Regions from separate parts of the Homo sapiens genome. Here regions 1 and 2 are each linked to region 3. Evidence: fine-mapped expression QTL. A gene starts in region 3. Each other region holds a variant in brackets. All regions are shown on one strand. Distances are from middle to middle. Region 1 overlaps RAB3D (RAB3D, member RAS oncogene family). Region 2 overlaps RGL3 (ral guanine nucleotide dissociation stimulator like 3). Region 3 holds the start of RGL3 (ral guanine nucleotide dissociation stimulator like 3).

Region 1 (10,445 bases), 89 kb after region 3:
ATGTCCCGTCTAATTGCAGGGGATCCACGCGCAGGAACTCCCACTGCCCCACTGCCTATCCCCTGGGAACCCAGCAAAACCATTTCTGGAAATTGATCCTAGAGATATCCTCACCCATGTGGGATATGGTGTGTGGAGTGTAGTAGTAGTATTAGTAGGAGTGAAACCTACAGATCCCCCCCAGGTGTCTCACAGTTGGAGAACCAAGTGGACATAAAGTATATTCACATGGTGGAATACTATGCAGCCATGGAAAAGGATGGGGATGTTCTTTATTTTTTTATTTTTTATTTTTTTGAGACGGAGTCTCGCTCTGTCGCCCAGGCTGAAGTGCAGTGGCGCGATCTCGGCTCACTGCAAGCTCCGCTTCCCAGGTTTATTTTATTTTTTTGAGTTGGAGTCTCACTCTGTCACCCAGACTGGAGTGCAGTGGTGCCGTATTGGCTCACTGCAGCCTCCACCTCCCAGGTTCAAGCAATTCTCCTGCTTCAGCCTCCCAAGTAGCTGGTACTACTGGCGCGTGCCACATGCCCAGCTAATTTTTTATATTTTTAGTAAAGATGGGGTTTCACCATGTTAGCCAGGATGGTCTCCATCTCCTGACCTCGTGATCTGCCCGCCTTGGCCTCCCAAAGTGCTGGGATTACAAGCGTGAGGCACCATGCCTGGCCTTTTTTTTTAATTTTGCGTGGAGATAGGGTCTCGCTATGTTTCCCAGGCTGGCCTCGAACTCCTGACCTTAAGTGATCCTCCCTCCTCAGCCTCCCAAAGTGCTAGGATTGCAGGCATGAGCCACCACACCAGCCCAAGGGGATGTTCTTTATGGTTTGTTTTTGTTTTTGTTTGAGATGGAGTCTCCCTCTGTTGCCCAGGCTAGAGTGCAGTGGTGCGATCTTGGCTCACTGCAACCTCTACCTCCTGCATTCAAGTGATTCTCCTTCCTCAGCCTCCTGAGTATCCAGGATTACAGGTGTGCGCAGCATGCCTGACTCATTTTTGTATTTTCAGTAGAGATGGGGTTTTGCCATGTTGGCCAGGCTGGTCTTGAACCCCTGACAGGTGATCCACCTGCCTCAGCCTCCCGAAGTGTTGGGATTACAGGCGTGAGCCACCGTGCCTGGCTGTTTTGTTCTAGCAAAATAGTGGATACGACTGCTTTCTTTAGTCCAGGAGTCAGCAAACCTTTTCTTAAAGGGCCAGATAGTAAATATTTTTGGCCATACAGTCTCTATGGCAACTACCCAACTCTGCATGACAGCAGCCACAGACAATGCATAAATGAATGGGTGTGACTGTTTGCCAATAAAACTTTATTTGTGGCCGGGCGTGGTGGCTCATGCCTGAAATCCCAGCACTTTGGGAGGCTGAGACAGGCAGATCACCTGAGGCCAGGAGTTCTAGACCAGCCTGGCCAACATGGCAAAACCCCGTCTCTACTAAAAATGCACAAAAATTAGCCGGGCATGGTGACAGACGCCTGTAATCCCAGCTACTTGGGAGGCTGAGGCAGAAGAATCACTTGAACCTGAGAGGTGGAGGCTGCAGTGAGCCGATATCACGCCACTGCACTCCAGCCTGGGCAATGGGGGGAGACTCTGTCTCAAAAGAAAAAAAAAAAAAGGAAAGAAAGAAACTGATGCTTGCAATCAGTTTTTAACCCCAGCTTTCCCATAAGCCCCATCCAAGCCAGCACCCTATGTGCAAAATTCAGAAGGCACAGGAAGAGACTAAGGCAATAACCCACTCCCCACCTGCAGTTCTGGTCTCCCAGCTTCTCTGATTCTTGTATCTCTTTCCAGAAATATGCTGAGCACCCACAGGCATTGACAACACATTGGCTACTTTTTTGTTTTACACAGATGTTCCCTACTGTATATACCCTTTCCTGCACTTTGAACTTTTCTACTAAATAATATATCCTAGAAATATTTCTCTGCCGGGCGCAGTGGCTCACGCTTGTAATCCCAGCACTTTGGGAGGCCGAAGAGGGCGGATCATGAGGTCAGGAGATCAAGAACATCCTGGCTAACACTGTGAAACTCCATCTCTACTAAAAATACAAAAAAATTAGCCAGGCGTGGTGGTGGGCGCCGGTAGTCCCAGCTTCTCGGGAGGCTGAGGCAAGAGAATGGTGTGAACCCGGGAGGCGGAACTTGCAGTGAGCCAAGATCACGCCACTACACTCCAGCCTGGGTAGAAGAGCAGGACTCTTTCTCAAAAAAAAAAAAAAAAAGAAATATTTCTCCATCAGCCCCAGAGCTGGCTCATTCTTTTGCATGGCTGTGTACTATTCCATTTCGTGTTTCCTTAACCTTTTCCTCTGTTGACAGCCATGGAGATTATTTCTAGCCTTTTCCTCTGACAAATGCAGCTGCAGCAGTCATTTTTACATATATTTCTTTGGACACATGAGGCAAGAAATCTGCCAGCTTGATTCACAGATGTTCTTAACACTTTTTTTTTTTGAGATGGAGTCACTGCACCTGGTTGGTTTTTATAGTCCCGGCCTACACTTTTTTAAAAAAATAACTTTGGCCAGGAATGGTGGCATGTGCTTGTAATCCCAGCTACTCTGGAGACTGAATTAGGAGGATTGCTTCAGGCCAAGAATTTGAGACCAGCTTGGGCAATATAGCGAGACCCTGTCTCAAAAAAGGAAGAAAATAATAACTTTTTGTGATAAAAATGTTCAAATACTCTCAGCACATTGGGAGGGCAAGGTGGGTAGATCGCTGAAGCCCAGGACTTTGAGACCAGCCTGGTCAACATGGTAAACCCTGTCTCTACAAAAAAATGCAAAAATTAGCTAAGCATGGTGGCTCACACCTATAGTCTCAGCTACTCAGGAGGCTGAGGTGGGAGGATCGCTTGAGCCTGGGAGGCAGAGGTTGCATTGAGCCAAGATTGCACCACTGTATGCCAGCCTGGGTGACAGAGTGAGACCTTGTCTCAAAAAACAATGAAATAAAATGAGAAATGTTCGGCCAGGCGTGGTGGCTCACGCCTGTAATCCCAGCACTTTGGGAGGCCGAGGCAGGCGGATCACCTGAGGTCAGGAGTTTGAGACCAACCTGACCAACATGGTGAAACCTCATCTCTACTAAAAATACAAAATTAGCCGGTCGTGGTGGCGCATGCCTGTAATTCCGGCTACTCAGGAGGCTGAGGGAGGAGAATCACTTGAACCCAGGAGGCGGAGGTTGTGTGAGCTGAGATCGCACCATTGCACTCCGGCCTGGGTAAGAAGAGTGAAACTCCATCTAAGAAAAGTTCAAATACATTCACAAGTAGAAAGGAATGTATAATAGACTTTGATAAAACATTATTCAGCTTAATTAGGTCTCAACATTTTTTCAATCTTGAATCATCTATTCCCCCAAAATACTTTTCCTTTTTTTCCTAGAGCATTGAGAGCAAACCCTTGACATCGAAACCTTTTGTCTGTAAACACTTCACTATGCAACTCCAGCTGTTTTGTTGTCGTCGTCGTTTTTTAAATAATAGAGACAGAGCCTCACTCTTTCACCCAGGCTGGAGTACAGTGGTGTGATCCCACCACTTTAGGAGGCTGAGGAGGGAGGATTGCTTGAGCCCAGGGGTTAGAGACCAGCCTGGGCAACATAGTGAGACCCCAACTCTACAAAATAAGTTTAAAGCTCCCTGTAGCCTCAGACACCTGGGCTCAAGTGATTCTGCTGCCTCAGCCTTTCAAGTAGCTGGGACTACTAGTATAAGCCAGCACACTGGCTAATTTTTTATTTTTATTTTTTGTAGAGATGAGGTCTCACTATATTGCCCAGGCTGGTCTTGAACTCCTGGGCTCAAGCAGTCGGCCTGCCTCAGCCTCCCAAAGTGCTGGGATTACAGGCATGAGCCACGGCACCTGGTTGGTTTTTACATTTTTAAGTGGTTGAAAAAAAATAATATGACATGGGAAATTTATATGAAATTCAAATTTGTATCTATAAATGAAGTTTTTCTGAGACACAGCTATACCCTTTTAAAAGAATTTTTTTTTTACACGGAGTCTTGCTCTTGTCGCCCAGGCTGGAGTGCAATGGCGTGATTTCGGCTCATTGCCACCTCCGCCTCCCCAGTTCAAGTGATTCTCTTGCCTCAGCCTCCTGAGTAGCTGGGATTACAGGCACCCACCACCACGGGGCCTGGCTAATTTTTGTATCTTTAGTAGAGATGGGGTTTCACTATGTTAGCCAGGCTGGTCTGGAATTCCTGACCTCAGGTGATCCACCCGCCTCAACCTCCCAACCATTTATTTTTTAAATTTTTTTTTTTTTTTTGAGGCAAGGTCTCTCTCTGGTGCTCAGGCTGGAGTGCAGTGGCACGATCATAACTCAAAGCAGCCTCCAACTCCTGGGCTCAAGTGATCCTCCCACCTCAGCCTCCCAAGTAGCTGGGATGCCAGGTGTACTCCACCACACCTGCCTAATTAAAAAAAAATTTTTTTGCCGGGCGCAGTGGCTCATGCCTGTAATCCCAGCACTTTGGGAGGCCGAGGCGGGTGGATCACAAGGTCAGAAGCTTGAGACCACCCTGGCCAACATGGTGAAACCCCGTCTCTACTAAAAATACAAAAAAATTAGCCGGGTGTGGTGGT[A/G]CACACCTGTAATCCCAGCTACTCAGGAGGCTGAGGCAGGAGAATTGCTTGAACCTGGGAGGCAGAGGTTGCAGTGAGCCGAGATCGTGCCACTGCACTCCAGCCTGGGCAAGAGAGCGAGACTCCGTCTCAAAAAAGAAAAAAATTTTAAGAGATAGGTCTTGCCATGTTGTCTGGGCTGATCTTGAACTCCTGGGCTTAAGCAGTCCTCCCACCTTGGCCTCCCAAAGTGCTGGGATCACAGGAGTGAACTCACACCCGTGCTCAGTTGATGCCTATTTGTTGATGCATTGTCTATGGTTGCTATTTTTATGGTAATCACACGTCTGTGATTACAGGCTGTCTCAATACAGAAAAGGGTATAAACAGTGCTTCAAGCGTGAAATTGAGTAATTGAGACAGAGACCATATGACCCAGAAAGCCTAAAATATTTACGATCTGGCCTTTTACAGAGGAGGTTTGCTGACCTCTAAGCCATAACCAGTCCCTTTCCCCTTTTATTCTTGCCATTGCTTTGTTGGAGAAACTGGATCTCTGTTCTGTGGGGCAGGGCCCTGGATCCCCAGTTAGCCTGGAAGTGGTGAAATCAGTTAACGCCCGCGATGGGCTGGAATACTTGGAGGTGCTTTCCACACCTACTTGCGGATTATATCTGGGGTCTCGGGGTAAAGGGGGATTCTCACTTTCTGTTATTATGTTTAAAATATTGGAGTACAGGCCAGGTTCGGTGGCTCACGCCTGTAATCCTAGCACTTTGGGAGGCTGAAGTGGGCAGATCACTTGATGTCAGGAGTTCGAGACCAGCCTGGCCAACATGGTAAAACCCTGTCTCTACCAAAAATACAAAAATTAGCTGGGTGTGGTGGCACGTGCCTGTAATCCCAGCTACTTGGAAAGCTGAGGTATGAGAACCATTTGAACCCGGGAGGCGGAGGTTGCAATGAGCCAAGATCGCGCCATTGCGTTCCAGCCTGGGTGATGGAGTGAGCCTGTATCTCACACACACACAAAAAGAAGATTGGCATACAAAGCAGGACACAGAATTTGATCCCAATTTTTTTTTCTTTTCTTTTGTTTTATTTTTTTTTTTGAGATGGAGTTTCGCTCTTGTTGCCCAGGCTGGAGTGCAGTGGCACAATCTTGGCTCGCTGCAACCTCCGCCTCCCAGGTTCAAGCAATTCTCCTGCCTCAGCCTCCCGAACAGCTGGGATTACAGGCATGTGCCACCACGCCTGGCTACTTTTGTATTTTTAGTAGAGATGGGGTTTCACCATGTTGGTCAGGCTGGTATCAAACTCCTGACCTCAGGTGATCCGCTGCCTCGGCCTCCCAAACTGCTGGGATTACAGGTGTGAGCCACCACGCCTGGCCTGATTCCAATTTTGTAGGAAAAAAAGCCAGACACACATACATGTGCACACACACATCCCCTACAAACCTAACCCCAACAAATGACATATTTATATAGAAAAAGACTAAAGGCTGGGCATGGTGGCTCATGCCTGTAATCCTTGCACTTTGGGAGGTCAAGGCAGAGGATCACTTGAGTCTAGCAGTTAGAGACCAGCATGGGCAACATGGTGAAGCCCCACCCCTATAAAAAATACCAAAAATCGGCTGTGTGTGGTGGCACACCCCTATAGTCCCAGCTACTTGGGAGACTGAGGGGGGCCCAAGAGTCAAGGCCGTAGTGAGTTATGATTATACCACTGCACTCCAGCCTGGGCAACAGAGGGAGACTCTGTCTTAAAAAAAAAAAAAAAAAGATGAATAAAGACTAGAAAGCTAAATAGCAAAACGCCAACAGTAATTGTTTCCAAGTGATGAGATTACAAATTACTTTTATCTCTATCTCCATACATTTCTTTGTGTTTTTGTTTTGAGACAGGGTCTCACTCTGTTGCCCAGGCTGGAGTGCAATGGCATGACCTCAGCTCACTGCAGCCTCAACTTCCCTGGCTTAGGTCATCCTCCCACCTCAGCCTCCCAAGTAGGTGGGACTACGGGTGCATGCCACCACACCTGGCTAATATTTATTTATTTATTTATTTAGAGATGGAGTCTTGCTCTGTTGCCAGGCTGGAGTGCAGTGGCATAATCTCGGCTCACTGCAACCTACACCTCCCGGGTTCAAGCAATTCTTCTGCCTCAGCCTCCTGAGTAGCTGGGACTGCAGGCACGTGCCACCACACAAAGCTAAATTTTGTATTTTTAGTAGAGACGGGGTTTCACCGTATTGGCCCTGGTCTCGAACTCCTGACCTCGTGATCCGCCCACCTCCGTCTCCCAAAGTGCTGGAATTACAGGCGTGAGCCACCACGCCTGGCACCCCCCAACCTTCTTCTTTTTTTTTTTTTTTTTTTTGAGATAATATCTTGTTCTGTCACCCAGCCTGGAGTACAATGGCACAATCTCGGCTCACTGCAACCTCCGCCTCCCAGGTTCAAGTGATCCTCCTGCTTCAGCCTCCTAAGTAGCTGGGATCACAGGTGTGCACCACCATGGCCAGCTAATTTTTGCATTTTTAGTAGAGACGGGGTTTCATCATGTTGGCCAGGCTGGTCTCAAACTCCAGACCTCAAGTGATCCGCTCACCTTGGCCTCCCAAAATGCTGGTATTACAGGCGTGAACCACCATGCCTGGCCTTAATTTTTATATTTTCTTTAGAGACTGGGTCTTGCTATGTTGCCCAGGCTGGTCTCAAACTTGTGAGCTCAGGTACCCACCTGCCTCAGTCTCCCAAAGTACTGGGATTATAGGCTGTCTTAATACTTTTCTGTAGTTTCTAGTTTCTCCAGTAAATTTCTCTATTGAATGACATCCAAAAAATGTATTTTTTTTCCTTTTTAAAATTTTTATTTGTTTTAGAGACAGGGTCTCCCTATGTTACCCAGGCTGGTCTTGAACTCTTGGGTTCAAGTGATTCTCCTGCCTTGGCCTCCTGAGTAGTTGGGATTACAGGCGCATACCACCACGCCTGATTAATATCAGAAAAATAAGCTGGGCACGGTGGTTCATGCCTGTAATCCCAGCACTTTGGGAAGCTGAGGCAGGTGGATCATCTGAGGTCAAGAGTTCGATACCAGCCTGGCCAAAATAGCGAAACCCTGTCTCTACTGAAAATACAAAAATTAGCCTGGCATGGTGGTTCACACCTGCAGTCCCAGCTCCTTGGGAGGCTGAAGCAGGAGAATCGCTTGAACTCGGGAGACGGAGGTTGCAGTGGGCTGAGATCGTGCCGTTACACTCCAGCCTGGGCGACAAGAGCAAAACTCTGTCTCAACAAAAAGAAAAATAAAGAACACAGATGGTATGAGGCAAAGCCACGCGTGGATAAGGAAACACCAGATTTGCCCAGGAAGACAGTGGGATGGCTTTGATATCTCTGGGCTGACAGTAGGAGATCTAAGTTCATGTCCTGCCCCTGCTATTGTTCATTTACCCATTCATTCATTCAACCATTCAGCAGACAGTTTCTAAGCACCCTCTCTGTGTCGGGCACTGGGTACAGCCATGGGCGGAAATCCTGCCTGCCTGGAGCTGGCTTTCTAGTAGCGGAGACAGATAATAAATGGGTAATTACACAGCTAACTCATTATGATTCCATTTTCATAGTTCAGCATGACGCACAGAGAAGACAGGTCCACTTACCCTTGGCCACGTGTAACGTGGCAGGCGTTTGTCTGAATTCCTGGCTTACCTTGGTGATGTGGCAGGTGGGGCTGCATGGAGATTCAGGGACAGCTCCTCTCAGGCAGACCCTCAGGAACCTTAAAAGGATGCAGGAAGCCCAGCGTGGTGGCTCACGCTGGTAAACCCAGCACTTTGGGAGGCCTAGGCGGGGGGATCGCTTTAGGCCAGCAGTTCAAGACCAGCCTGCGCAACATAGCGAGACCCCCACCTCTACAAAAGAAAAAATTGAAAAATTAGCCGGGCATGGTGGGGCACACCTGTAGCCCCAGCTACTCAGGGGGCCAAGGCGGGAGGATCGCTTGAGCCCAGGAGGTTGAGGCTGCAATGAGCCATGTTCATACCACTACACCCCGGCCTGGGCAATAGAGAGAGACCGTTTCTCTTTTAAAAAAAGCAATGGAAAATGTGACTTGATGGGTCTCCTGACCATGCCTTTCTGTGCAGCAGAAATTGGGTGGAAGCTGAGCTATAGCCACCTGTGGGCACTGCCATGGCCGCAGGGCAGCAGAACTCTTCATGTACCCTCCCACCTATACTCTTGCAGCCACTGCCTTGTGACAAAGAGATCTTAGGATTGTCCAGACCATGGCTGCAGCCGCAGGGTTTCGTTTTGTTTTGTTTTTGAGACAGGGTCTTGCTCCATCACCCAGGCTGGTGTGCAGTGGTGTGATCATGGCTCACTGCTGCCTTGACCTCCTGGGCTCAAACCATTCTCCTGCCTTAACCTTCCGAGTAGCTGAGACTGCAGGTGAACGCCACCATGCCCCTCTATTTTTTTTTTTTTAATAGAATCTCGCTCTGTTGCCCAGGCTGGAGTACAGTGGTGTGATCTCAGCTCACTATAACCTCCGCCTCCCAGATTCAAGCAATTCTCCTGCCTCAGCCTCCCGAGTAGCTGGGATTACAGACGCGTGCCACCATGCCCAGCTAATTTTTTGTCTTTTTAGTAGAGATGGGGTTTCACCATGTTGGTCAGGCGGGTCTTGAACTCCTGACCTCAAATGATCCTCCCGCCTCGGCCTCCCAAAGTGCTGGGATTATAGGCATGAGCCTCCTCACCTGGCCGCCCATCTACTTTTTAAAAAAATTTATTGTAGAGATAGGGCCTTGCTATGTTGCCCAGGCTGGTCTTGAACTCCTGGCCTCAAGCGATCCTCCCGCCGTAGCTTCCTTTAGTGCCAGGATTACAGGCATAAGCCCCTGCGCCTGGCCTGCCACAGATTTTTATCATTGGTAGGATCATCATTCCCATTTTACAGGTGAGCAAACTGAGGCTTGGAGTGGCAAAGGCACACAACCAAGGTCCCACAGCAGGATAAAGAGCAGAACTAGGCTTAGAAGCCAGGTTTCTGTGATGCCACAGCTGAGACTCTGCCCTCAGGGGTCTTACGAGTGTCCCCACCTTAACATTCATCCAGGTTTCGAGTTCTTTGAAGCCAGTGCCAAGGAGAACATCAATGTGAAGCAGGTCTTCGAGCGCCTGGTGGATGTCATCTGCGAGAAGATGAACGAGTCCCTGGAACCCAGCTCCAGCTCAGGCAGCAACGGGAAAGGCCCGGCCGTGGGGGATGCTCCAGCCCCCCAGCCCAGCAGCTGCAGCTGCTAGAGATGGCCCCCAACCCCCCACCCACCCCTCTCCTGCCTCGGCAGGGACTGTGATCGAGGCGTGAGCCACAGTGGTTATCTCCAAGCTCAGGGCAATCCCTTCCCTCCTGTCAACTGCTCCCCGACTCCTGCATGGCTCATTCCTTCACAATGTCGCCGTGGCTGCCAGGTTCCTCAGGCAGCCCCGGTGGGAGGCTGCGGACCATGGGGACTCAGCTCTGCATGGCAGGCAGAGGCCCAGGGACACTGACGTGCATGAGCTTGCTGCTTTCCAGGGTGTGTTGAGGGTGGCCATGGGTGACACGTCCCACTCTTTCTGATGGAGGGGCATCCGTGGTGCCTTCTAGCTTAGAACCATTTTCCAGGTCTCTTCTGGGTTGGGCAGGACTGATATTCCCAAGCTGGTGGAAGATGGTTCATCTTCCTCGCACAGTGTGGGTTCTTGGAGTTCATCCAGGGAAGGCGGCGCCTCTTTCTCAGGTCCTGCAGGCTGGTCTCTGAGCCTGCCCCCACGAACTTTCTGGATTCCA
Region 2 (10,445 bases), 23 kb after region 3:
ACTGCCTCAGCCTCCCCGGTAGCCGCAATTACAGGCGCGAGCTACCACACCTGGCTAATTTTTTTTGTATTTTTAGTAGAGACGGGGTTTCACTATATTGGCCAGGCTGGTTTCGAACTCTTGACCCGAAGCAATCCTCTCGCCTCAGCCTCCCAAAGTGCTAGGATTACAGGCGTGAGCCACTGCACCCAGTCCTGACCCTGACTTTAATCCTGACCCAATTTGATTCCTTAGTGCCACCCTGTGAATCTCTTTGTGACCTCCTGACCAGCCATCCTGTCCCATCTCTGATAAGACCTTGATGCTCAATGACCCTCATTTACCACCCTGACCCTGGCATGTGGGGTGCCACCTCTGGCTGCTCCCCCTTACACCCCAAACCCACCTCCCAACTGATTCCAACTCTTATCTCTCCATCCCCTGTATTTCCTGCCCCCACCACCTCATCCACATATTGACCCCTCAGCTACCGGCTCTCCCGGGTCATTGAGCCACCAGCTGCCTCCTGCCCCAGCTCCCCACGCATCCGACGGCGGATCAGCCTCACCAAGCGTCTCAGTGCGTGAGTCTCGGGGTGTGTGTAGGGGCGGTGATGTGGGCAGATATCAGCAAGGGCTGCTCCTGCCTTAGCCTCATCCCCTGTCCCCATCCTTAGGAAGCTTGCCCGAGAGAAAAGCTCATCACCTAGTGGGAGTCCCGGGGACCCCTCATCCCCCACCTCCAGGTGAGCATTCTGCTTGGTGATGGGACTGGGGATCATGGGATCAGGAGTCAGCACAGCCACCCCACCTCAGCCTCTGCATCTCCCCCAGTGTGTCCCCAGGGTCACCCCCCTCAAGTCCTAGAAGCAGAGATGCTCCTGCTGGCAGTCCCCCGGCCTCTCCAGGGCCCCAGGGCCCCAGCACCAAGGTACCAAGACGGCTTGTGTGTGCATGCGGGCCTGCGGGCACCCAGGCTCTGTGTGTGTGCACGTGTGTGTGCATGCACATGTGTACACACAGGATTGTGGGGCCAGGAGTGTATACAGGAGGCACACTGAGCGCCCGGGGTATCCATCCAGGGGATTGCATGCATCTGCACGGCCCTGTTTGGGTGATCACTCATAAATCCGACTCGTGCTCAGATTTGGACCTGTGTAACTGCTTGCCCATGGGTCATCTAGGGTGCAATCACATCACACCCCTTTTTATTTGAAACAGGGTCTTCTTGCTCTGTCACCCAGGCTGAAGTGCAGCGGTGCAATCTCAGCTCACCGCAACTTCCACCCCTCCCCCAGGCTCAAGCAATCCTTCCACCTCAGCCTCCCAAGTAGCTAGGACCACAGGTGTGCACCACCATGCCCTGCTATTTTTTTTATTTAGTAGAGATGAGGTTTCGCCATGTTGCCCAGGTGGGTTTCGAACTCCTGAGCTCAAACAATGCACTCACCTCGGCCTCCCAAAGTGCTGGGATTACAGGTGTGAGCCACCGCACCCAGCCTACACTTTTTTGAGGACATGTATGTCCCTAAGAATCTGCATACCATGGCAGACACGGTGGCTATTGCCTGTGATCCCGGCACTTTGGGAAGCCAAAGTGGGAGGATTGCTTGAGGCCGGGAGTTCAAGACCAGCCTGGGCAACATAGTGAGACCCTATTTCTATTAAAAGTCAAAAAAATTAGCTGGGTGTAGTCCCAGCTACTCAGCAGGCTGAGGTGGAAGGATCGCTTGAGTTTGAGGCTGCAGTGAGCTACGATCATGCCACGGCACTCTAGCCTGCATGATAGAGCGAGATCCTGTTTATGAAGAAAAAGAGACTGGGCACGGTGGCTCACGCCTGTAATCCCAGCACTCTGGGAGGCCGAGGTGGGCGGATCACGAGGTCAAGAGATCGAGACCATCCTGGCCAACGTGGTGAAACCCTGTCTCTACTGAAAATAGAAAAATTAGCTGGGTATGGTCGCGCACACCTGTAGTCCCAGCTACTTGGGAGGCTGAGGCAGGAGAATCACTTGAACCCAGGAGACGGAGGTTGCAGTGAGCTGAGATGGTGCCACTGCACTCCATCCAGCCTGGTGACAGAGCGAGGCTCCCTCTAAAAGAAAAACAAAAAAAGAAAAGGAAATGAAGGAAATGAAGGCTGGGCATGGTAGCTCATGCCTGTAATCCCAGCACTTTGGGAGGCCGAGGCCAGTGGATCACTTGAGGCCAGGAATTTGAGACCAGCCTAGCCAACATGGTGAAACCCCGTCTCTACTAAAAATAAAAACATTAGCTGGGCATAGTGGCACAGGCCTGTAATCCCAGCTACTTGGGAGGGTGAGGCATGAGAATTGCTTGAACCTGGGAGGCAGAGGTTGCAGTGAGCTGAGATGGCACCACTGCATTCCAGCCTGGGTGACAGAGCAAGACTCTGTCTCAAAAAAAAAAGAAAAGAAAAAGAAAAGAATCTGTGTACCAGAAGAGGAAATGTGGGCCTGAGTATTCATGAGATCATGTGTGGGGTTGTTCATTGGCATGGGCTGTGGGTGTATAACCGCTGTCAGCATATGTATGTACACAGGATTTCTTGTGTATGAGCATGGGTTGTGTGTATATGGACACTGTTCATGTCTGTTTCTATAACAGGTAACCAAAGTCTGTATATGGTAGGGTGGTGTATATGCAGGCTTGTGAATGTACTCCAGTTGCATGTCCCAGGCTCTGCATGTGTAGGGGGTAGTAGTATGTTTTCTTGAGATTTTATTTTATTTTATTATTTATTTATTTATTTTTGAGATGGAGTCTTGCTCTGTCACGCAGGCTGGAGTGCAGTAGCGTGATCTTGGCTCACTGCAACCTCTGCCTCTCAAGTTCAAGTGATTCTCCTGCCTCGGCCTCCCAAGTAGCTGGGATTACAGGCATGCGCCACCAGGCCCTGCTAATTTTTGTATTTTTAGTAGAGACGGAGTTTCACCACGTTGGCCAGGCTGGTCTTGAACTCCCGACCTCAAGTGATCCGCCCACCTCGGCCTCCCAAAATGCTGAGATTACAGGCATGAGCCACTGCGCCCAGCCAATGTTTTCTTGAGATTTTAAATGTGGGGCTATTGAATGCACCAGTGGTGGCTGGGGTGTTCGTGCTTTTCTAGCCCTCAGCATCTGCAGATGGGCCAAGCTGTAGCCTCCACCCCTTACTGCCTGCAGCTGCCCCTGAGCCTGGACCTGCCCAGCCCCCGGCCCTTCGCTTTGCCTCTGGGCAGCCCTCGAATCCCCCTCCCGGCGCAGCAGAGCTCGGAGGCCCGTGTCATCCGCGTCAGCATCGACAATGACCACGGGAACCTGTATCGAAGCATCTTGGTGAGGGGCTGGGCTGGGGGTCTGCTGGAGGCTGCCCTGCCCTTGGGGCCGGGGCCCTCACCTCACCTCCCGCCCCTCTCTTCCAGCTGACCAGTCAGGACAAAGCCCCCAGCGTGGTCCGGCGAGCCTTGCAGAAGCACAATGTGCCCCAGCCCTGGGCCTGTGACTATCAGCTCTTTCAAGTCCTTCCTGGGGACCGGGGTGAGCAGGGATGGGTTGGAGCTCAGGATAGGGGGCAGCGGGGAGGCGAGCAGACTGACCACGCCCAAGGATGGAGCCCAAGGTTACCCGGGTTCACAGGGCTGTGAGGTGCTTCAGGCAGAGAGTAGGGGTAAGATAATCAGTGGAGGTAAGAGGACATAAAATACCTGTAACCCAACGATGTAGGGTCATGAGATTGTCTTGGCTCAGTGTGAGAGAGAGGTACCAAAGGTCATCTTCCTAAAATTTAAAAGACAATAAGATTGTCCAGGGTCCGGCCAGGCGCAGTGGCTCATGTCTGTAATCCCAGCACTTTGGGAGGTCAAGCTGGGCGGATCACTTGAGGTCAGGAGTTTGAGACCAGGCTGACCAACGTGGTGAAACCCCGTCTCTACGAAACATACAAAAATTAGTCGGGTGTGGTGGCACACTCCTGTAGTCCCAGCTACTCAGGAGGCTGAGGCAGGAGAATAATTGCTTGAATCTGGGAGGCGGAGGTTGCAGTGAGCCGAGATCATACCACTGCACTTCAGCCTGGGCAGCAGAGCGAGACTCTGTTTAAAAAAAAAAAAAAAAAAAAAGACTGTCCACGGACAAGTGACAGAAGGGAGTGTTTCTGACCTTCAATTTGTAGGATGGGCTGGGCATGGTGGCTCACAACTGTAATCCCAGCACTTTGGGAGGTCAAGGTGGGTGGATTGTCTGAGCTCAGGAGTTTGAGACCAGCCTGGGCAACATGAGGAGACCCCATCTATACAAAAAATAGAGAAATTGGCTGGGTGCGGTGGCTCAACGCCTGTAATCCCGGCACTTTGGGAGGCCAAAGCGGGTGGATCACTTGAGGTCAGGAGTTCGAGACCAGCCTGGCCAACATGGTGAAGCCCCGTCTCTACTAAAAATACAAAAAAATTAGCTGGGCATGGTGGCACATGCCTGTAGTCTCAGCTACTCGGGAGGCTGAGGCAGAAGAATCGCTTGAACCCAGGAGGCGGAGGTTGCAGTGAGCCGAGATCGCACCACTGCACTCCAGCCTGGCGACTGAGCAAGACTCTGTCTCAAAAAAAAAAAAAAAAAAAAAAAAAAAATATATATATATATATATATATAGAGAGAGAGAGAGAGAGAGAGAGAGAGAGAGAGAGATTAGCTGAGCATGGTGGCATGTGCCTGTATTCCCAACTCCAACTACTGGGGAGGCTGAGGTGGGAGGATCACTTGAGCCTAGGAGGTGGAGGCTGCAGCGAGCTGAGATCACGCCACTGCACTCCAGCCTGGGTGACAGAGCAAGACCCTGTCTCAATTAAAAAAAAAAAAGGGGGCCGGGCATGGTGGCTCACGCCTGTAATCCCAGCACTTTGGGAGGCCGAGGCGGGTGGATCACGAAGTCAAGAGATCGAGACCATCCTGGCCAACATGGTGAAGCCTCGTCTCTACTAAAAATACAAAAAATTAGCCAGGCATGGTGGCAGGCGCCTATAGTCCCAGCTACTCAGGAGGCTGAGGCAGAAGAATCACTTGAACCCAGGAGGTGA[A/C]GGTTGCAGTGAGCCAAGATTGCGCCACTGCACTCCAGCCTGGCGACAGAGTGAGACTCCGTCTCAAAAAAAAAGAAAAAATAGATTGTCTAGGGTCGAGTGAGAGAAGGGAGTGTAGAAGTTTGTCTGATCTTAAGTTTGTAGCATCATGAGATTGTTCAGGCTCAACCTGATGGGATGGGAGACTAAAGGGCATCTGGGCTTAGATTTGTGAGAACTAAGTTTGTTCACCACTGGGACCCTGAAGTTATCTGAACTTGGGACGGGAGAGAGGCAAATGGATAGCCGCGGAAGCATGAGATTGTCCTGTCTGACAGGGAGAAGCAAGGGATTGAGCGTATTCACGCTGAAGTACATGGCATGAGGTTGGCTGGATATTAGGAAAGGATGCTTGTGGTTGTTCAGGTGTTGAGTGTGAGGCCACAAGCTCGTGCAGGCTGGAAGTGGGAAGTTATTCAAGTTCATGGTGACAGCAGCATGGGATTGGCTGGGAGTGGTTGTGGGGGAGGGGTAGGGTGAGCAGGAAGTTGTTTGGCGGGGGGTGGTCTAGGGTGGTCTAAGTTTGCCCAAACTTTTACTGCAGGTTGTCGGTTTTGTTTGTTTTTGTTTTTTTTTTTTTGAGATGGAGTCTCGTGCTGTTGCCCAGGCTGGAGTGCAATGGCAGGATCTCGGCTCACCGCAACATCCACCTCCTGGGTTCAAGAGATTCTCCTGCCTCAGCCTTCCGAGTAGCTGGGATTACAGGCATGTGCCACCATGCCTAGCTCATTTTTTTGGTATTTTTAGTAGAGACGGGGTTTCACCATGTTGGCCAGACTGGTCTCGAATTCCTGACCTCAAGTGATCCACCCACTTCGGCCTCCCAAAGCGCTGGGATTACAGGCACGAGGCATCGCGCCCGGCCAGTTTGCTCAAACTTTTACTGCAGGTTGCCTTGTCTCTATGGTGAGGGGGAGAATATTAGGAGGTTGCCCAGGCTTATGATAAGGGAAGGCATGAGGTGGTGCAAGTTTTCAAGTGAGAAGTCGTCCAGGTTCCCAGTGACAGCAGAATGAGCTTGGCTTGGCAGTAGCTGCAGAGGGACCCATGGCTGTTCAGGTTCGCGGGTGAGTGGCAGGAGGCTCCCGGGTCCTCTGTGGGGGTGACACAAGGTTGTGAGGGCCTATTACCACCATCTCCACTCCTGACCAGTGCTCCTGATTCCTGACAATGCCAACGTCTTCTATGCCATGAGTCCAGTCGCCCCCAGAGACTTCATGCTGCGGCGGAAAGAGGGGACCCGGAACACTCTGTCTGTCTCCCCAAGCTGAGGCAGCCCTGTCCTCTCCACAAGACACAAGTCCCACAGGCAAGCTTGCGACTCTTCTCCTGGAAAGCTGCCATCCCCCAGTAGAGGCCACTGTGCTGTGTATCCCAGGACCACCACCCAACTGTAGCCCATTGGACCCCATCTCTTTTTCTGACTCTGTTGGTACTAGATCCATATTCCAAAGACATCAGCCCATGGGTGGCTGGTGGAGAGCTCAATCCCATAAATGTAGAAAGAGGTGGGGCATGGATACGTCAAATCCCTCCCCAGAGAAATCTTATAAATGTTAGAGACGCATCAGAAGTGACAGATGCGGATGAAAATAGTGACCAGAGTTATGAAACAGGTGTCAGTCTTGTTTATTTTGCGCCTGTGTGCCATGTTCACCCTTTATCAAGATAAAGGAAAACAGCTACCACACACACACCCACACACACACACACAAACACACAGAGAGAGAGAAACCTAAGAGCCAAGACCAGCCCGGGCAACATAACGAGATCCTGTCTCTACAAAAAATACAAAAATTTGGCTGGGCGTGGTGACTCACGCCTGTAATCCCAGCGTTTTGGGAGGCCAAGGCAGGCAGATCGCCTGAGGTCAGGAGTTCGAGACCAGCCTGGCCGACATGGCAAAACCCCATCTTCTAAAAGTACAAAAAATTAGCCGGGCGTGGTGTCATGCACCTGTAATCCCAGCTACTGGGGAGGCTGAGGCAGGAGAATTGCTTGAACCCGGAAGGTGGAGGTTGCAGTGAGTGGAAATCACACCACTGTACTCCAGCCTGGGTGACAGAGCAAGACCCTATCTCAAAAACAAACAAACAAACAAATGAACAAACAAAAAATTTTCTGAGTGTGGTGATATGAGACTGTAATCCTACCTACTTGGGAGGCTGAGCTGGGAGAATCACCAGAGCCCTGGGAGGTTGAAGCTGCAGTGAGCAGTGACTGGGCCCCTGCACTCCAACCTGGAGGACAGAGGGAGATCCTGTCTCAAAAACAAAAAAACTAAGAGCCCTAAGAAAGGTGTTGAGTCGGGTATGACACTCAACCCAGATGCCAGAGAGGATCCTGTCTGGCCGGACACAGTGGCTCAGGAGGGTAATCCCAGTACTTTGGGAGGCTGAGGTAAGAGGATTGCTTAAGTTCAGGAGTCCGAGAGCAGCCTGGGCAATACAGTGAGATCACATCTCACTAAATAAATAAATAAAGGATCCTATCACACAAAGAGGGTTTAGGACTTCCTTCCCCAACATTTTTGGGGTGATATGCCTCTTTTCTACTGTATATATGGGAGAGTGACTAACTGAAATTCCATCAGAATTAGAAACAAATAGCATCATTACCCATGAGTCAATAAGGGCTGTGAGGATGGGCCCTTTCACTTGCCCTCACCTTCTTCCTCTTCCTGTCACAGATAACCCATCTGTGCAAAGAAGAGAAAAAGAGGTTGGGTGTGGTGGCTCACATCTGTAATCCCAGCACTTTGGGAGGCTAAGGTGGAAGGATTTTGAGCCCAGGAGTTTGAGACCAGCCTGGGCAACATAGTGAGACCCCATTTCTACAAAAAAATACAAAGATTGGCCAGGCGCGGTGGCTCACGCCTGTAATCCCAGCACTTGGGAGGCTGAGGCAGGCGGATCATGAGGTCAGGAGATCGAGACCATCCTGGCTAGGTGAAACCCCGTCTCTACTAAAAATGCAAAAAAATTAGCCGGGCGTGGTGGCGGGCGCCTGTAGTCCCAGCTACTCGGGAGGCTGAGGCAGGAGAATGGCGTGAACCCAGGAGGCGGAGCTTGCAGCGAGCCGAGATCGCACCACTGCACTCCAGTCTGGGCGACAGAGGGAGACTCCATCTCAAAAAATAAAATAAAATTTAGCCAGGTTTGGTGTCCTGCACCTGTAGTCTCAGCTACTCTGGAGGCTGAAGCACGAGGATCACTTGAGCCCAAGAGGTGGAGGTTGCAGTGAGCCGAGATTACTGCACTCCAGCCTGGGTGACAGAGCGAGATCCTGTTTCAAAAAGCAAAAAAAAGGGCCAGGCGCAGTGCTCACACCTGTAATCCCATCATTTTGGGAGGCTGAGGTGGGCGGATCACTTGAGGTCAGGAGTTCAAGGTCAGCCTGGCCAACATGGTAAAACCCTGTCCCTACTAAAAAATATAAAAATTAGCTGGGCATGGTGGTGGGTGCCTGTAATCCCAGTTACTCAGGAGGCTGAGGCAGGAGAATTGCTTGAATCCAGAAGGTGGAGGTTGCAGTGAACCGAGATCATGCCATTGCACTCCAGCCTGCGTGACAAAGTGAGACTGTATCTCAAAAAAAAAAAAAAAAATGCTGGGCACAGTGGCTCTAGCACTTTGGGGGGGCAAGACGGGTGGATTGCTTGAGGCCAGGATTCCAAAACCAGCCTGGCCAACATGGTGAAACCCCTTCTCTACTAAATATACAAAAAATTAGCCGGGCATGGTGGCAGGCTCTTGTAATCCCAGCTACTCGGTAGGCTGAGGCAGGATAATCACCTGAACCAGGCAGGCAGAGGTTGCAGTGAGTCGAGATCGCTCCACTGCACTCCGGCCTGGGCAACAAGAGCAAAATTCTGTCTGGAAAAAAAAAAAAAAGAAAAAGAAAAGGATTGTGAGGATGAAAAGAGAGGCGTGAGCTCTCTGTCAGCGTTGGAGTACAATAGAGAGGATGAAATGAGCTGTAGGGCGAACTGCTACATAGTCACAACCACAATAATATGCCCACTTATGAGCTCCTACTCAGCAGAGAACATCAGCTATGGTCTTTACATCTCATTGCACTAATCGAGTTCTTTCTGTTGCAAGCGACCAAAAACCCAATTCAAAGAGGCATGTGCAAAAAAGGACATTTGTGGCTTATGCAGTTGAAATGTCCAATGAGTAGGGCTTCAGGCACAGTTGCATCCAGGCACTCATAAGATGTCATCAGGGTTTTCTTGCTGTCTCTTTGCTCTGATTTGCTCTGAGAATGAGATAGTCCATTGTCCCCTCAAATTTAATCACCTTCTTCTATGGTAATGGAACCACTGATTTTTAGCTGGCCTCCCAAAGTAAAAGCCATATTTCCCACCTCCTCTGCAGCAAGGTGTGGTCATATCTGGCCACTGGCTAAGTCTTGGCCAATAAGATATAAAGGGAAAGGATGTGAACAAATTTCAGAACCTGCCCTTAAAGGGAAGCGGTGTGTCCTTCTTTTCCCCCTTTCCTCCCTCCTGCTGGTGGGAATGAAGACGTGGAGTGGATCATTTTGGATTAGGTGGTTCACACTGTCTGAATAGCTGAGCAACAAGCTAGAAGGAGCCTGGGCCTATGAGACCAGGGAGCTACCATATTGGACTGTTGATACTTGGAGTGTTACATAAAAGAGAAATAAATTTTTATCTTACTTAAGCCACTATTATTTGAGTTGCTGTTACAGTAGCCCAAATAATATTTTATTTAATATAGCTGTACTCATAGCTGGGTGTGGTGGCATGCACCTGTAATCCCAGCTACTTGGGAGGCTGAGGCGAGAGAATTGCTTGAACCTGGAAGGCGGAGGTTGCAGTGAGCCGAGATCGCTCCACTGCACTCCAGCCTGGGAGACAGAGCAAGACTCCGTCTCTACAAAAAAAAAAAAAAAAAAAAAAATACACACACATATATATATATATAGCTCTACTCCAAGGCAGGCTCATACCTTGTGGAGGCATAGGCTTATATCCCAACAGCTCCCCCATCCCATGCAAGCAGAGCCCCTCCTTCCCATCAGCTCCAGCAAAAAGTCCCAGAGCAGGCGCCCATTGGGCCAATTTGTGTCATGTGTCCACCTCTAAACCAATCACTGTGTTCAGGGGAATGAGATGTGCTGATTAGCCAGGCCTGGGTCCTGCGCCCACCCTTTGAGCTGGCACAGAAACTTTGAATCACAGGGGTGGAGCCTGGGAGAGTCCATAAGTGGACATTAAATGTGGGGGCTGTTATGAGGAGAAGGGGGAGTTCTGGTGAATGGGCAAAAAATAATCACTAGGTTTTCAAACATTATCCCTGGAGCAATAATGAGGAATGCCCAGGAAT
Region 3 (7,308 bases):
CCCAAGGAAGCCCAAGACGTCAGAGACCCTGTCCCGTCTCAAGCTCCGCCTCCAAGGGAAAGAAGTCCCACCCTGTCCCCGAAAAGCTCGGAGACCTATCTGCAGTTCTGGAGCAGCCCGAGACAGAAGACCTATCCTGCCCGCAGCAGAGGGCCATTTCTTCAGGAGGCCATCCCACAATGGCCTCCCTCGAATCCTTACTGTTCCCAAGAGGCCTCCCCGAAACCTTTACATATAGAGTTAGAGTTCAGAGGCTCCCCCATCACAGACGTGGCCTTGACCTAAGTCCCCGCCCCCAATGGCTAGGATCGACCCTGCAGGTGGGCCCTTACCTCCTAGGCCCCGCCCCCGAAAGAAAAGCCCCGCCCCTGGGTGGAGCCTTCCAAGAGGCCCCACCCCTCTCGGCTGACCCGGCTCTACCCTGGCCGCAGGAGGACGGCCGCTTCGCGGGAAAGGAGCTGGATCCCCAGGCAGATAACTATGTGCCAAACCTGCTGGGCCTCGTGGAGGAAAAGCTGCTGAAACTGCAGGCGCAGCTCCAGGGCCACGACGTGCAGGAGATGCTGTGCCACATCGCTAACCGCGAGGTGCCCTGCAGCCATGGGGCAGAGCTCCAGAGATCTAGGAGTAGGGCTGGGTCGGAAAACCAGGGAACCGGGGGCAACTTCGGGAGACCAGATTGCAGGCTGATCAGCCAGGAAGGGGTCTCGGGGACAACGGGCGAGGTTTGACGAGCCAGGGGTGAGCCCGAGCCACGAGGGAAGAAACCAGAAGAGGTGCAGGCGGGTCCTGTGAGGCTAGAGGACGCGGCTGGGGTATCCGGATGGGGAGAGGCCTAGTGGCAGGGCCCCAGAGACCAGGGGCGGACCTGAGTGATGAGGGGGTGAAGCTGGGTATCAAGGTGCCTGCTTAAGGAGGGATGGGAGTGGGCAGTGGTCTCCAGTTGGAACTAGGGCATATCTCGGAATGGGGTAGGGAGGAGGGGGAACGTGACTTCTCGGTGGCCCCTGGCCCCGCCCACCTTCCTCTCTCGCTTCCCATCCCCGCTTAGTTCCTCGCCAGCTTAGAGGGAAGGCTGCCCGAATACAACACCCGCATCGCCCTGCCCCTTGCCACTTCCAAGGACAAGTTTTTTGGTCAGTATGGGTGGGGGGATGAAGGGGTGCGGTTGGGGCCCCAAGCTGGGTAGCAGGAGGTTGTCAGATACCCTGTTCAGGGCCAAGGTGGGGGTGGAGTGGGGTGGTAAAGGGAAGGGGAGCCAGGGATGGGGACCTGGATCCCACATCGCTCCCTGCTCATCCCCCCACCCCCCTTAGACGAAGAGAGTGAGGAGGAGGACAACGAGGTAGTGACCCGCGCATCACTCAAGATCCGTTCCCAGAAATTAATCGAAAGTCACAAGAAGCACCGTCGCTCTCGGAGGTCCTAGACTCGTCCTGACACCCACCAGGCGGCCCCCTTCGGAGCCCCCGATCCCTCCGGGTCTAGCGCAGGCCCCACGGGGCCCCTTCAGGGGCTGAACGCGGCCCGGACCGGGAACGGAGGCGGCCAGCGGCGCCCGGAGGGGAGGAAGGGGCCGGGCCAGACGTTCCCACAGTAAATCTCCCCAGCTGGGTCCGCCCCGGCCTCAGAGTTGCGCAATAAATGTTACCGACCATGCCCCTGGGTATTCATCTGTTTTTGACCCTGCACCACCCAAGAGACGGCTGTCCCTGAAAACCCAGGGCCACAGACTGCCTCCTCCAACCTGGGTCATGATGACTCCCATCAGCTAGTGACGCAGATGGAGCTTAAAAATGGGAGATGGCCCGATGTAGTGGTTTTATGCCTGTAATCCCAGTATTTTGGGAGGCTGAGTTGGGAGGATCACTTGAGTCCAGGAGCTCCAGGCTGCAGTGAGCTATGATCGTGCTACTGCACTCCAGCCTGGGCCACAGAGCCAGACCCTGTCTCAATAAATAAAATAAGGGCGGGGTGCAGTGGCTCATTCATACCTATATTCCCAGCACTTTGGGAGGCTGAGCTGGGTGTGTCGCTTGAGCCCAGGGGTTCCAGACTAGCCTGGGCAACATGGTGAAAACCAGTTTTTACCAAAAAAAAAAAAAAAAAAAAAAAAAAAAAAAAAAAAGCTGAGCATGGTGGCATATGCCTGTAGTCCCAGCTACTTGGGAGACTGAGGCAGGAGAATGGATTGAACCCAGGAGGCGGAGATTGCAGTGAGCCAAGATCAAGCCACTGCACTGCAGCCTTGGCAACAGGAGTGAGACCCTGTCTCTAAAAAATAATAAGGCTGGGCGCCGTGGTTCATGCCTGTAATCCCAGCATTTTGGGAGGCTGAGGTGGGCGAATCTCTTGAGGCCAGGAGTTTGAGACCAGCCTGGCAAGTATGGCAAAACCCCGCCTCTACAAAAAATACAAAAATTAGCTGAGCATGGTGGCGGCACCTGTAATCCTAGCTACTTGGGAGGCTGAGGCACAAGAATCCTTTGAATCTGGGAGGCGGAGGTTGCAGTGAGTTAAGATCAAGCCACTGTACTCCAGCATGGGTGACAGAACGAGACTCCATCTCAAAATAATAGCAATAATAATAAAAAGTGGAAGATGCCCCCACACTTGATCAAGCTAGCCCCTTCCACTGGAGGACAGAGGACTCTGGTCTGGGGACACACACATGCCCCCACACAGGAGCTCCCCCACATCTGGGGATACAAAAAAGACCCCTTGGGGACAGATATGTCCTTTCTTCTGGGGACAGATTGATAGGCACCCAGCGGAAGAGCCAGGACCTCTCCTGGGCTGGCGCTGGGTCCGGCTGGAGGCACCCAGAGGCTGGGTCCGGCCTGCCCTGCCCCGCCCCGCCCCAGCAGCTCGGCCGCTCCGCCCCTCTGGCCTCAGCGCCCGGCCACTGCCCGCCGCCCGCCACCCGCCACCCGCCGGCCCTTCCGCCTCACTCAGCGGCGCCACTGAGAGGGACGGGCGCCGGCCATGGAGCGCACAGCAGGCAAAGAGCTGGCCCTGGTAAGGGGACAAGGGATCCCCGGACCCCGCATCCCTGGTGACCCGCAGGTCCAGAAACTCCAAGCGCCCGCCCGTCGGACGGTATCTGCTCCCAATCTGAACTTGCCCTGGAGTCCCCTCCTGGGGACTCGCGGCCCTTGACCCAGTGAAGCGACTGGTTCCTCTTAGGGATGGGGGCGCGAGTCTCTGAGCGCAGTCGGCAGAAAGAGCTAGAGACAGGTTCTATTAGACTGGGCCCTGGGACATCCCCAAATGCCACCCCATGTCCTCAGGACCTGGGAGGAGGGGACCCGCAGCGAGGAGGGGACTAGCCTGGGACCCCAGCCCTAGTCTCGCAGCTTCTGGCCGGGAAGGGGCGTGGGGATGCAGCAGGAGGACTCGGCCCGAGTCCGAGCGGCCAAGGAGGCTGAGGCCCCAGGACCTGTGCCCCTTTGGTGCCCTGAGTCCGCCTGTGCGTCCAGGCACCGCTGCAGGACTGGGGTGAAGAGACCGAGGACGGCGCGGTGTACAGTGTCTCCCTGCGGCGGCAGCGCAGTCAGCGCAGGAGCCCGGCGGAGGGCCCCGGGGGCAGCCAGGTGAGGAGGGGGTTTGGTGGGTGGCGCGGGGCCGGAAGCGACCAGTTGAGGGCGGAGCTGGAGAGCCGAGCACAGGCCGCCAGGTGCAGTGGGCGGAAGGAAGGGAGGGGCTCGGAGGCGACCAGATGAGGCGACCAGGTAGAAAGGGGACTGGGGGCGGCCAGGTAAGTGGGGGGAGATCCAGGGAATGGGGTGGGGCCAGGCGATGGCCGCGCAGTTCCCGAGAGGAGCCTAGGGACAACTTGGTAAGGACAGAACTGGACGGCAGAGTTGGGAAAGGCAGGTTTAGAGGGCCGGGGCTGGAAGGTGGAATGGGGTTGGTTTAGAAGTGGCTAGGTGAGGGCGGATGGGGCAGCCAGTGAAGCGCGACAGGAGGGCTGAGGGAAGCCCTGGGTGGAAAAGAGTGTGTGGGGCGGGGGCGGGGGGGTGGGGGGAGGGGACGGGAGGGGGAGGGGACGGGAGAGGGAGTAGGGGACAGGGCATGGGAGAGGGAGGGTTTCCAGGGCAAGTTGCAGGAGCTATTTGTGGATGGGGAGGAACAATAACTTCAAGCGGGCAGGGAGTGGGGCACACACCTATAATCCCTGCGCTTCGAGAGACCAAGGCAGAAGGCCAGGAATTGGAGACCAGCCTGGACAACACAGCAAGATTCTCTCTAATAAAAATAAAAATTAAAAAACTAGCTGTGCGTGATGATGCCCAGCAGTGGTCCCAGCTACTCAGGAGGCTGGGGCAGAGGGACCGCTTGAGTCTAGGACTTGGAGGCTGCAGTGAGCTATGATTGTGCCACTGCACCCCAGCCTGGGCAACAAAACAAGACCTGTTTCTAAAAAAAACAAACCAAAACAATAACTCCAAGAAGCCGGGAGACAGAGGAATCACATGAAAGAATGGTGCTACAGGCGGGGCGAGGTGGCTCACGCCTGTAATCCCAGCACTTTGGGAGGCCGAGGCAAGTGGATCATCAGGTCAGGAGTTCAAGACCAACCTGGCCAAGACGGTGAAACACCGTCTCTACTAAAAATACGAAAAAACTAGCTGGGCTTGGTGGCGGGTGCCTGTAATCCCAGATACTTGGGAGGCTGAGGCAGAGAATTGCTTGAACCCAGGAGGCGGAGGTTGCAGTGAGCCAAGATCACGCCACTGAACTCCAGCCTAGGTGACAGAGTGAGATTCTGTCTCAAAAAAAAAAAAAAAAAAGTGGTGCTAGGGGCTGGGCACGGTGGTTCACGCCTGTAATCCTAGCCCTTTGGGAGACTTTGGGAGGCCAAGGGGGGCAGATTACTTGAGGTCAGGAGTTCGAGACCAGTCTGACCAACATGGTGAAACCCTATCTCTACAAAAATACAAAAATTAGCTGGGCTTGGTGGTGTGCGCCTGTAGTTTCAGCTACTTGGAGGCTGAGGAAGGAGGATTGCTTGAACCCAGGAGGCAGAAGTTGAAGTGACCCAAGATCGTGCCACTGCACTCCAGCCTGGGCAACAGAGTGAGACTCTGTCTCAAAAAAAAAAACAAAAAAAAAAAGAGTGGTGCTAGTGATGAATGTGACTAGAGAAGGGGTGCTGTGAGGACCACTCCTGCTCTCTCATGGCCACCTCTCCCCTCCTGCAGGCTCCCAGCCCCATTGCCAATACCTTCCTCCACTATCGAACCAGCAAGGTGAGGGTGCTGAGGGCAGCGCGCCTGGAGCGGCTGGTGGGAGAGTTGGTGTTTGGAGACCGTGAGCAGGACCCCAGCTTCATGCCCGCCTTCCTGGCCACCTACCGGACCTTTGTACCCACTGCCTGCCTGCTGGGCTTTCTGCTGCCACCAATGCCACCGCCCCCACCTCCCGGGTCAGTAGCGAACCATAACCTCCGTATTCTCCACCCTAGAACCCCAACTGGGCACCCCCCTCCACCTCCTCAGGTGTGGAACCTGGAAACACCTCCCAGACCCAGAGCCCTCTTCCTAAGCCCCCTCTAGGTTCCCCCTTCTTCACCTGCTGGGGGGCCTCTTCCCAGGGTAGAGATCAAGAAGACAGCGGTACAAGATCTGAGCTTCAACAAGAACCTGAGGTGGGTCCTTCATCCAGATAGGGGAGTGCGGGGAGGGAAATCCAAGAGGTCAAAGGTTAGCAGTCGGACTGGGGTTTTGAAAATTGCAGGTTGGGTAATAAGAGACTGGGAGTCAGGTGGGGCGTGGTGGCTCATGCCTGTAATCCCAACACTTTGGGAGGCCGAGGCAGGTGGATCACTGGAGGTCAGGAGTTAGAGACCATCCTGGCCAATATGGCGAAACCCTGTCTCTACTAAAAATACAACAACAACAAAAAAAGGTAGCTGGGTGTGGTGGCGCATGCCTGTAGTCCCAGCTACTCGGGAGGCTGAGGTTGCAGTGAGTCAAGATCAGGCCATTGCACTGCAGCCTTGGTGACACAGTAAGACTCTATCTCAAAAAAAAAAAAAAAAAAAAGGTACCAGGAGTCATATTCTATGTCCCCCACTCTGGACCCAGCTCTGAGACCCTGCCTCTCTGGCCAGGGCTGTGGTGTCAGTGCTGGGCTCCTGGCTGCAGGACCACCCTCAGGATTTCCGAGACCACCCTGCCCATTCGGACCTGGGCAGTGTCCGAACCTTTCTGGGCTGGGCGGCCCCAGGGAGTGCTGAGGCTCAAAAAGCAGAGAAGCTTCTGGAAGATTTTTTGGAGGAGGCTGAGCGAGAGCAGGAAGAGGAGCCGCCTCAGGTGTGGACAGGTGAGGGGTTTTCAGATCCAGTCGTGTTCTGAGAAGGCCTTTCCTGTCTGCTTCTTCCCACACAGGCTTTCTCTCCCCTCTCAGAGCTACAAAACTTAAGCAAGATTTTAAACTCTAAGCCTCAATTTCTTCATCTTTACAATGGGGATAATAATTCTTTGTCAGCCGGGCGTGGTGGCTCACGCCTGTATCCCAGCAGTTTGGGAGGCCAAGGATGGTGTATCACCTGAGGTCAGGAGTTTGAGACCAGTCTGACAAACATGGAGAAACCCCATCCCTACTAAAAATACAAAATTAGCCGGGCGTGGTGGGGCATGTCTATAATCCCAGCTATTCGGGAGGCTGAGGCAGGAGAATCGTTTGAACCCGGGAGGCGGAGGTTGCGGTGAGTCGAGATCGTGCCATTGCACTCTCGCCTGGACAACCAGAGCGAAACTCCGTCTAAAAAAAAAAACAAATTCTTTGTCTGAAGTATTAGCATGTGTCTAATACTTTTCCCTCCTTGGTGCCGTTGGGTCAGGATGCTCTGTGTTTCTAGCTACAAACCATTGCCTTGATACTTGTCTTTATTTTCTTTTTTTTGAGTCAGGGTCTTGCTCCGTTGCTCAGGCTGGAGTGCAGTGTCTCCATCATGGCTCAGTGCAGGCTCAACATCCTGGACTCAGGTGATCCTCCCGCCTGGGTCTCCAAAACTGCTGGCATTACAGGCGCGAGCCACTATACCTAGCCTGTAAAATTTTTCTTATTTTTGAATTTCTTTTTAAATTTAATTTAATTTAATTTTATTTTTTTATCTATTTTTTTTTTTAGACAGAGTCTCGCACTGTTACCCAGGCTGGAGTGCAGTGGCACAATCTTGGCTCACTGCAACCTCCACCTCCTGGGCTCAAGCCATTCTCCTGTCTCAGCCTCCTGAGTAGCTGGGACCACAGGCGCATGTCACCACGCCCGGCTAATTTTTTTGTAAAGGTGAGGTTGTGC

Evidence for each region. PIP is the estimated chance that this variant, and not a neighbour inherited with it, causes the effect.
Region 1: its variant is fine-mapped to the expression of RGL3 in whole blood (TOPMed, PIP above 0.99).
Region 2: its variant is fine-mapped to the expression of RGL3 in lung (GTEx, PIP 0.92).

The regions. Positions count from the first base shown.
Region 1 is chr19:11,324,869-11,335,313 of GRCh38, reverse strand. It overlaps RAB3D (RAB3D, member RAS oncogene family), which reads left to right. Exons shown (of 5, transcript NM_004283.4): 5 at 9,729-10,445. The coding sequence ends at 9,916. It also overlaps a transcript of TSPAN16 not described here. Among named protein-coding and RNA genes, the nearest start is that of TSPAN16-AS1, 8.8 kb to the right of the region's middle. The variant A/G (reference allele first, on the strand shown) is at 4,616.
Region 2 is chr19:11,390,319-11,400,763 of GRCh38, reverse strand. RGL3 (ral guanine nucleotide dissociation stimulator like 3) reads left to right here. Exons shown (of 19, transcript NM_001035223.4): 14 at 467-562; 15 at 656-724; 16 at 813-909; 17 at 3,167-3,319; 18 at 3,406-3,520; 19 at 6,244-6,704. The coding sequence ends at 6,362. Among named protein-coding and RNA genes, the nearest start is that of EPOR, 11 kb to the right of the region's middle. The variant A/C (reference allele first, on the strand shown) is at 5,053.
Region 3 is chr19:11,414,956-11,422,263 of GRCh38, reverse strand. RGL3 (ral guanine nucleotide dissociation stimulator like 3) reads left to right here and starts at 2,950. Exons shown (of 19, transcript NM_001035223.4): 1 at 2,950-3,018; 2 at 3,480-3,593; 3 at 5,205-5,428; 4 at 5,597-5,650; 5 at 6,116-6,327. The coding sequence starts at 2,986. It overlaps ODAD3 (outer dynein arm docking complex subunit 3), which reads left to right. Exons shown (of 13, transcript NM_145045.5): 11 at 432-587; 12 at 1,052-1,136; 13 at 1,317-1,659. The coding sequence ends at 1,429. RefSeq lists an enhancer at 841-890.